Linked DNA regions of Homo sapiens: region 1 is linked to region 2. The links come from fine-mapping of genetic effects on gene expression. Tissue or cell type: cerebellum. Region 2 holds a variant in brackets; the other region holds the start of a gene. All regions are shown on one strand. Distances are from middle to middle.

Region 1 (5,224 bases), 90 kb before region 2:
ATATTGGCGATTTACAATTTGGTGATTGTAAATATATTTATATAATTTGGCAATAATAATCTTGGGAATATACAAAAAAAGTAAACTGCTTCAGAAATTCAGAAAGGTAAAGTAAATGGTTTGGGGTTTGAGGAGGCAAGGAGATTTTTTACTACGTACTAGATTTCACTCTTTGAAATTTTGAATGTGAATATATTTCTTATACAAACAAGGAACAAAATAAAAAATACTATTAAACTGCCATTTAAACTATTTTAAATTGTTCATATTAATTCTTCATGAACATGGCAAATACATCTCAACAAAGTAAGTTAAAAAGAAGTCAGTGCTACACAAATATGATAAAAAGAAGATAAATAGATGTAAAAGAAATGCTTAAAATTCAAGTTCTAGACTAAAGATAAAAAGGCAAAATTGAACAGATGATTTTGACACAGCTATATTTTATAAAATGAGGACAATACATAGAATAAAATATTAGGTAACATATATATTAAATTTGTTTACTATAACATTTATAGGTATTGATTATCAAAATATGGAAATGTAAATATTTGATTTTGTAAATACACTATAGAAGAAAGGTGAATCCATTGCTCCAGTTAGCAAAGTCCTCCTCCAAAAATGGAGAGTAGCCAACATAAACCATAGATTTTGATCTATAGTATTACGCATCCCAAAACAAAAGTGTATATTAAACGTACTTCCAAATAATTAGTGCAAATACAGCATAACATTAAAAAATAATAATTATACATAAAGCTATCAACTAAAAAAGAAATTATGAAAGAAAATTTAAGGAGACCAATTGAACTAATTGTTTTAAAATTGTTGGAAACAAGATTATTTATGACTCACATTGTCTGTAGAGGATGGACCCTGAGGAAGGCTGGGACTGAAGGCCATGAGGTCTGTCTTGGGTGGGCCCTCCCCAGAGCACACCCTCTGCCGCCTCTGCTGGGAGAATGACCAGCTCCCCACCGCGCTGGAGCACACCAGAGTGGGCTTTACCAAACTACATGCGCCCTCAGAGGACGGCGCTGAGCACCGCAACGCCGTGTACAGCAGCAGGGTAAGCACCAACAGACTGGACACCGCGCAGATGGCGATGATCAGGTACACGTTGACATCCACCAGCTCGGTCTCTGGGCCTGCAATGCCCAACGATGCCCGCGACGACGCCTTTGGTGCCTGGCCGCTTTCCACCAGCGACACCAGCACGGTGGCTGTGGCTGTCAGCGAGGGCTCCCCGTGGTCCTTCACAAGCACCAGAAGGCGGTGGCGCGGTGCGTCCGTCTCATCTAGGGCTCGTGTCGTGCTGATCTCACCAGTGTACAGCCCCACGCGGAACGGGATGCTCGCACCGGCCGCCACCGGTTGCAACTCATACGAAAGCCACGCGTTGTAGCCTGAGTCAGCGTCAACTGCACGTACCTTCGCCACCACATGGCCCGCGCCCACAGACCGCGGCACAAGCTCTCTCACTGCGCCACCAGTGCCACCCACCCGAGGCGCCAGCAGTGCCGGCGCGTTGTCGTTCTCGTCCAGCACGAACACCTGCAGCGTCACGTTGCTGCCCAGAGGCGGCACGCCCGCATCGCGCGCGCTCACCTGGAACTGCAACAGCTCCAGCTCCTCGTGGTCCAACGGCTGCAGCGCGTACACCTTGCCGCTCTCCGCGTGCACTGACACGTAGCTCGACAGCGCGCGCTCGCCCACCCGCAGCTCCACCAGCGAGTAGGACACCAGCGCGTTCTTCTGCGCGTCCGCGTCCCCCGCCGACACAGTGAAGATGTGGCAGCCCGGCGGGTTGTTCTCCTTCACGAACACCGTATACTCGGGCTGCGCGAACGCCGGGGCGTTGTCGTTCACGTCGGCCACCTCCACGGACACGCTAGCAGTGGCCCACAGAGAAGGCGAGCCCCCGTCCCGCGCGGTAACCACCAGCTCATAGGCGGACACACTCTCGCGGTCCAGAGCGCTGTCCAGCACCAATGAATAGTAATTCTTGAAGGTGGACACCAACTTGAAGGGAACGCGGGGCGTCAGGGAGCAGGTAACCTGTCCGTTGACTCCAAAATCTCGGTCAAACACGCTAATCAATGTGATGACGGTACCTGGTTGGGCGTCCTCTGGAATAGGGAGAGACAGGGAAGTGAGAGTCAACTGTGGAGCATTGTCATTTACATCCACAACTTCCACAAGAACTGTACAATGACCAGCCAGGGGTGGGAAGCCTTTATCGACAGCCTCGACTGGGATCTTGTGTGCTCTACTTTCTTCAAAATCCATATGTCCTATCACTGTGATTGCCCCACTTAAGGGGTCCATGTGGAACTTGGATTTTATATCTGGAGAAACATCACTGGAGAAGGAGTAAATAATATCCCCATTCAAGCCTTCGTCTAAATCTGAGGCATTGGGGTGAATCACCAGCGTTCCGATAGAAACGTTTTCTGGTAATTTCACCGTATACAGGGTTCTGTCGAACACTGGGGCATTGTCATTGTTGTCCAGTACCGTGATGAGTAATTGAACGGTGCCAGTCAGCTCGGGTTTGCCTCCATCGGTGGCCGTGAGCAATAAATGAAGCTCCGGAGTTTCTTCTCTGTCTAAAAGTTTCCGTAATACAAGTCCAAGAGGTTTTACCTGCTGGTTGCTGGTTGGCACGTCCAGGAAGAAATACTCATTGGGGCTCAGTCTGTAAGTGAGCAGGGCGTTCTCCCCGATATCTGCATCGGACGCGCCCTCTAGTGGAAACCGAGAGTCAAGCGGCCTGGATTCCGCGATGAACAGATTCCTTTGTGTCGCTGGGAACACCGGAGGGTTGTCGTTAATGTCCTTCACCTCCACGTCCACATGGAAAACCTGCAGCGGCCTTTCCACGATCACCTCCAGGTGGATGCTGCACTCCGCGCTCCGCCCGCACAGCTCCTCGCGGTCGATCCGAGAATTCACAAACAAAATGCCATTCTGCAGATTTACCTCCAGAAGATCCCCACGGAATTTGCACACCGCCCGGAACAGGCGCGGCACCAGCTCCGCCAGCTCCAGCCCCAGGTCCTGCGCGATGCGGCCCACGAAGTTGCCATGTTTAGCCTCCTCGGGGACCGAGTAGTGGAGCTGGCCTCTCCCTGCCTCCCAAGCTGCTAGAATTATAATAAACAGCAGTAGATGTCGGCCCCCTGGGTCGTATCCATTCGGGCACACCATTTCAAATTATTGGCTTGTTTTTCTAGTCAGCAAAACTTGCCTTCGAATTTATAGGAATGTTTTTATCCCTTCATTTCAATCTCGATGTGTGGCCATTGTTGTGCATCCAAAGAGTGAAAGAGAGTGGAGCGTCTTTCCAGTGCGAAAAGGAATGACTTCCTTTTGCTGATTACGAAAGAATTTGCGGTAAAGAGCGACATCATGTGGCCATCATGTAAGTAAGAATTACAAACCATTACAAACTATTAATCAGATGAAAAGTTTTATTTCAAACTCTGAATTTTTTTCTTCATTGTTGTTAAAGGTTAAAATAGCATTTCTCATGATTGTTAGAAGCATTCTTAGGCGACTGATGGCTTTTGAATACTCAGTGTTACCAGAACTGTAGCTTCCTCATGCCTTAGAAAAACTTTTTTTTCACACAGTTTTAAATAAAGATAGAAACCTAAGTGACAACATGAATTTAAACAACTGCAAGTTTAAATTCCTTTGATCTAGATCCCAGGAAACTTCATATTCTTGATTCAGTATCGCTTGTTAAGAAAAATCCTGTACTCTTTTAGGGACCCAGGATCTCAAGAATCTACTGATTGATGAAAGAGAAACTTAGAAAGCGGTGTGTGTGTGTGTGTTTTCTTTTTAGGAGGCAAGAAACATTAGCAACTATCCAGACACTTCTCTTGGGAAAACAAAATAAGAGAAGGTTTGGGGAATCTTTGAAGGGGAAGAATTTGTATCATGTGAACTTTTTGAGGAGGAAGTATTCTGAATTTTTTGCTTTAGCAGAATCTATATATACTGTTTCAGGAGTTCATCATTTTATATTTGTTTCCTCATTCTATCCTTTCGAACACTTGTGTGTTATGAATATATGCCTATTTTTACAATCTCAAATATGATTTGTATTATTTCTTTTAAAATGTAAGTTTATTTTATTAGATAAATTTCAGTGCTCAGCCATCTCACATACAGCAGCCCTTTGATCAAGTCTTGAGGTATTTCATCCTTTTTGGATCTACCTTACTGTGTTCGTTTTCTGGAATGTTTCACTCCAATGTTCCCAATGGCATGTAAAATAATTATGTCTGTATTCAGATGCTTTCCTAAATAAGTTTTTATAATTGCTGCTCTCCTGGTGTATTGCAGTAGCTTCTTATTGTGTAACCTGTCCATTCCTATTTCATTCTCCTTCATTTAATCCTTGCAGTCATCTTCCGTTAATACTTTTTATTCGTATTGCTTCACACTTTTTGACAGCTTTCAAATGACTTTGAAGAGTGTCAAAATTACTCGTCTAGTACTCAAAGTTATACAAAAGGTTTTTCTCATATTACTTTTCTTGCTTTATATCACACTCTCTCTTATGGGAACCATGTGCTTTACCCAAAGTGGACTATTCCTCATTTCTAGGTACATTTGGAATTTTCTGTATACTCACTTAAGTTACTCTCTTCTCATGAATACCTGTTAGTCTCCATATTCTCCCAGGGAAAACTCTTTCCATTTTATAACCAGTAAAACATCATGACTCTTCACGGTCTCCTTCAACAAGGGAAAAAGGCAAAGATTTTTTTCCAATTCCAATAACACTATGATGTACCTTTCTAGCACCTCTTACAATATTCTTGCTTTTACTATCATCGTATTTATGTAGGATACTTACCTTTATTTATCTATTAAATTTGAAGCCAGGTCTTGTTAATTCGATGATTCTCAGCAGGCACAGTGTGATACTCTTAAAGACCCTCCTAGGAACTTTTTAAAAAACATTTACTCACTAGCAACGCTATAGTTCTCTACTTCCTAAGAAAGTATGCTGTTTTGAGGCTGTTAGATATCATTAGCTACACAAATGGTGATCTTCAGTATAATCAGAGACAATTCTGCCACTCTTAAGTATGTAGAGTTAGTTTTTTTAAATTTTAGTGCAATATTAATTACACGCTTAAAAATTATCATGTACTTCTTTTAGAAAACAGAAAATACCACTACCAGTTTCTGCCATTTCAAG
Region 2 (5,224 bases):
ATGAGACCCTGTCTTAAAAAAAAAAAAAAGTGAAAAAATAACAAATGCTGGTGAGATTGCAGAGAAGACAGAACACTTACACACTGTTGGTAGAAGTGTAAATTAGTTCAATCATTGTGGAAAACAGTGTAGTAATTCCTCAAAGAGCTAAAAACAGAACTACCATTTGACCCAGCAATCCCTTTACTGGGTATATACCCAAAGGAATATAAATTGTTCTATCATAAAGACACATGCATATTTACTGCAGAACTACTCACAATAGCAAAGACATGGAATCAACCTAAATGCTCATCAATGGTAGACTGGATAAAGAAAATGTAGTACATATACACACCATGGAATACTATGCAGCCATAAAAAACAATGAAATCATATTTTTGCAGGAACATGGATGGAGCTGGAGCCCATTATCCTTAGCAAACTTATGCAGGAATGGAGAATCAAATACTGCATGTTCCTACTTCTAAGTGGGAGCTAAATGATGAGAACATATGGGCACATAGAGGTGAACAAAAGACACCGGGATTTACAGGAGGAGGGAGAGGATCAGGAAAATTAACTAATGAGTTCTAGGCTTAATATCTGGGTGACGAAATAATCTGTACAATAAACCCCTGTGACAAAAGTTTGCCTACATAACAAACCTGCATTGTATCCCTGGACTTAAAATATAAGCTAAAAAAAGATGTTGTAAATTTATAGTATTGATAAATACAGTACAGTACTGTAAATGTATAAAACAAAAACAAAAAAGAAGAGCTTTAAACATATTATAACTTGCTTAATTTCATCCATAACAAGAATACAAATTAAAACCACATTGAGACATCATTTTTCATCAATCCGATGAACAAACATTTAGAAAAATTGACAATAGGCTCTATTAATAAGGTTGTGGAAAAGTAGGCATTCTCATGTATTGTTTGTAGGAGTGAAAAACATGGTAGAACCACAATGGAGGTAATTTGGCAATATCTTCAAAGAATGATGAATGCATTTGTCTTTTGAACTAGCAATTCCATCTTTAAAAATTTAAATATACACCTTCACAAATATTAAACATTATATACACCAAGTTATTTATTGTGACATCATTTATAATAAAATAACTGGAAAACAACCCAATGGTAATCAGCTGAGACTGAATGAAATATGATGAATCTACTGAACAGTGTCAATGGTGTACAATATAATTGTTAAAAAAAAATGAGAGGCCGGGCGCGGTGGCTCACTCCTGTAAACCCAGCACTTTGGGAGGCCGAGGAAAGCAATCACGAGCTCAGGAGTTCAAGACCACACCAGCCTGACCAAGATGGTGAACCCCGTCTCTACTAAAAATACAAAAATTAGCCGGGCATGGTGGTGCGCATCTGTAGTCCCAGCTACTTGGGAGGCTGAGGCAGAAGAATTGCTTGAACCCGGGAGGCAGAGGTTGCAGTGAGCCGAGATCACACCACTGCACTCCAGCCAGGGTGACAGAGAGAAACTCCCTCTCAACAACAACAACAACAAAAAGTCTTAGCCGGGCGCGGTGGCTCACACCAGTAATCCCAGCACTTTGGGAGGCCAAGGCAGGTGGATCACAACGTCAGGAGCTCGAGACAAGCCTGACCAACATGGTGATACCCTGTCTCTACTAAAAATACAAAAATTAGCCAGGCATGGTGGTGGGCGCCTGTAATCCCAGCTACTCAGGAGGCTGAGGCAGGAGAATTGCTTGAACCCAGGAGGCGGAGGTTGCAGTGAGCCAAGATGGTGCCACTGCACTCCAGCCTGGGCGACAGAGCGAGACTCCATCTAAAAAAAAAAAAATACTTAGGCCAGGCACGGTGGCTCATGCCTATAATCCCAGCACTTTGGGAGGCCGAGGCAGGCAGATCACGAGGTCAGGAGTTCAAGACCAGCCTGGCCAACATGGTGAAACCTTGTCTCTACTAAAGATACAAAAAATTAGCCAGGCATGGTGACGTGCACCTGTAATCCCAGCTACTCAGGAGGCTGAGGCAGGAGAGTTGCTTGATCCCGGGAGGTGGAGGTTGCAATGAGCCAAGGTCGCACCATTCCACTCCAGCGTGGGTGACAGGGCGAGATTCCATCTCAAAAAAAAAAAAAAAGTCTTATCTGAGATTCTTTATGGAACAGAGTTCCATCAAAACCAATTAAAAGAAGCCTATGTGGCAAATAATTATTCTTGCTGCACTTTAAACAAATAATTAGGCCAAGTATATTAAAGCAAATTGGTCTTACCATGATTTGTCTTTAGTAAAAATGGGAGACTGGAGAGAGAAAAAATATGTTTCAGGAACTATGGTACACCTTTTGTCAGATTTTAGTCTCATCAGTTGTTTTTGAGTTTTTTGTCTGCAATTTAGACTGCTTATTCCTGTAAACCAACCAGTGGTGTCTGGCTGATAGAAGAAACAAGAAGGATAGGTGATATAAAAATGTGGATCAATATTCTAATTCTG[G/A]GCATGTATTGAAATCAGCTAGTGACTCCATATTAGCTCAGTTCCAACAGTTGCCTAGCTTATGGAAAGCCTTCTTATTTAGTTTACTTGAGATAACTTTACTTATTTTGCTTTACTTTTGTGGAATATATTGGTGTTGTGCTCTTTGCATAGGAATGCAGAACAAGCTTACTCAATGTTTTCCCAAATTAAACACTTATTAATCTTCCAGATGTCACCTTTTATCAGTACTCAGGGTTATGAATGGTGCTTGACATACTGATGCTTTCTGATTGAGCTACTCTCTACCCTGAATACAAGAGACCCTAATAATTAGGCAGGAATATCATTGCCCCTATTCAGCCTGAAAAAGTTACAAAACATGGATCTTCATCCTGCTACAACCCTTAGGATTAAGAGTTTTCTTATAAAAGGGAGGGAGGGGCCAGGTGCAGTGGCTCACACCTATAATCCCAACACTTTGGGAGACTGAGGCCAGTGGATCACTTGCGGTCAGGAGTTCGAGACCAGCCTGACCAACGTGGTGAAACCCCGTCTCTACTAAAAATACAAAATTAGCTGGACATGGTGGCACACACCTGTAATTTCAGCTACTTGGGAGGCTGAGGCAGGAGAATCACTTGAACCTGAGAGGCAGAGGTTTCAGTGAGCTGAGATCATGCCATTGCACTCCAGCCTGGGCAAAAAGAGCAAAACTCTGTCTCCAAATTAAATAAATAAGTAAATAAATAAATGGGAGGGAGGAAGTCTGTCAGAGGCCTTTGAATCAGAGCAACTCCATCTTGAATGGAGGCTGGGTAAAATAGGGCTGAGACCTACTGGGTTGCATTCCCAGTCACATTCTAAGTCACAGGATGAGATAGGAGGTCGGCACAAGATACAGGTCACAAAGACCATGTTAATAAAGCAGCGTGTGGTAAAGAAGCCAGCCAAATCCCACCAAAACCAAGATGGCGAAGAACGTGACCTTTGGTCATCCTCACTGCTCATTATATACTAATTATAATGCATTAGCATGCTAAAAGACACTCCCACTAGTGCCATGACAGTTTACAAACGCCATGGTAACATCAGGAAGTTACTCTATATGGTCTAAAACTAGGAGAAACCCTCAGTTCTGGGAATTGCCCACCCCTTTTCCAGAAAACTCATGAATAATCCACCCCTTGTTTAGCATACAATCAAGAAATAGCCATAAAAATAGGCAACCAGCAGCCTTCGGGGCTGCTCAGCCTGGGGGATAGCCATTCTTTATTCCTTTACTTTCTTAGTAAACTTGCTTTCACCTAAAAAAAATACCCAACATCAATTATCATTAGAAAAATGCAAATTAAAACCATATAAATATCATCTCACACCAGAAAGAGAGGGAAAATAAGTGTTGGAAGGGGTGTGCAGAAATTGGAACCTTTGTGCACTATTAATGGGAATGTAAAATGGTGCAGCCTTTTTAGAAAACAGTAAGGCAGTTTCTCAGAAAATTAAAAATAGAATTACCGGCAGGGCACGGTGGCTCACGCTTGTAATCCCAGCACTTTGGGAGGCTGAGGCCAGTGGATCATGAGGTCAGGAGCTCGAGACCAGCCTGACTAACATGGTAAAATGCCATCTCTACTAAAAATACAAAAATTAGCTGGGCATGGTGGTGTGCGCCTGTAATACCAGCTACTAGGGAGGCTGAGGCAGGAGAATCGCTTGAACCCGGGAGGCGGAGGTCGCAGTGAGCGGAGATCATCCCATCACACTACAAAATGACAAATACTATATGATTCCACTGATATGAGGTCCCTAGAGTAGTCAGATTCACAGAGACAGAAAACAGAATGGTGGTTGTCAGGAGCTGGAGGATGGAAAATGGGAAGTTGTTGTTTAATGGGCATAGAGTTTCAGTTTTGCAAGAAGACAGCCCTGAAGATTGACTGCCCAACAATGTGAATGTGCCTAACATTACTGAACTGTACACTTAAAAATGGTTAAGATGGTAAATTTTATATTATGGATTTTACCACAGCTTTTTAAAATTATTTTAAAACTGGCTGTCACAAAAAGGAAAAGAATATCAGGTGAGATTGGTCTAGATTAAAGAGACTGGAGAGATGTCATGACAACTAAAAGCAATGCATGATCTATAATTGGTTCCTGACTTTAAAAAATATTATATATATATATATTATATATGTATATATGTATGAGTCCAATTGTCCAACCAAGTACCAAATGTCATTCTTCATTTCTTGCAGGCACTCACATTCTCCACAGAGGCCTACTGAATTCTTTCTCATCACATGGCTCCCTAGATGAAAGGAAAGGTCTCACACTGTGACAACCTTCCCCCAACCCACTATCAAGGATTCTGACAACTATCCCTTTCCCTAGTACCGTCTTTATACAAACTGGGGATTGGGGAAAGGTAAGGGGGTGATATCGTGATTGGTTATCAGAAAGCTGGCTTGGCCACTAACTCTTGGCAATCAGGTGGAAGCTACTCTTAGAATTACTTCTTTCTGTTTTCAGCATAGCTCAAATTCCTGGGCAAAAGAAAAACTCTTAACCAGATGGGGCAGCTCATGCCTGCAATCCCAACATTTTGGAAGGCCAAGGCGAGAGGATTGCTTGAGCTCAGGAGTTTGAGACTAACCTGGGCAACAGAGTGAGATGCCCTCTGTACAAAAACTTCTTAAAAATTAGCCAGGTATGGTGGCATGTGCCTGTAGTCCCAGCTACTCGGGAGGCTGAGGTGGGAGGATGGTTTG

Direction of the effects. Alleles are on the strand shown, and positions count from the first base shown. SD is a standard deviation of normalised expression in the study named.
As copies of A replace G in region 2, the expression in cerebellum of the gene that starts at base 3,328 in region 1 goes down (small effect, 0.36 SD a copy in GTEx).

The links. PIP is the estimated chance that this variant, and not a neighbour inherited with it, causes the effect.
Region 1: it holds the start of PCDHA7, and the variant in region 2 is the best candidate, but not a certain one, in a credible set for the expression of PCDHA7 in cerebellum (GTEx, PIP 0.61).

The regions. Positions count from the first base shown.
Region 1 is chr5:140,832,373-140,837,596 of GRCh38, reverse strand. PCDHA7 (protocadherin alpha 7) reads right to left here and starts at 3,328. Exons shown (of 4, transcript NM_018910.3): 1 at 859-3,328. The coding sequence starts at 3,213. All of the region lies in intron 1 of PCDHA1 (protocadherin alpha 1), which reads right to left. The region is part of intron 1 of PCDHA2 (protocadherin alpha 2); the gene reads right to left. The region is part of intron 1 of PCDHA3 (protocadherin alpha 3); the gene reads right to left. It also overlaps PCDHA4, PCDHA5, PCDHA6 and PCDHA@. RefSeq lists an enhancer at 1,388-2,035.
Region 2 is chr5:140,742,598-140,747,821 of GRCh38, reverse strand. The region is part of intron 3 of LOC105378198 (a long non-coding RNA gene); the gene reads right to left. Among named protein-coding and RNA genes, the nearest start is that of PCDHA1, 41 kb to the left of the region's middle. The variant G/A (reference allele first, on the strand shown) is at 2,472.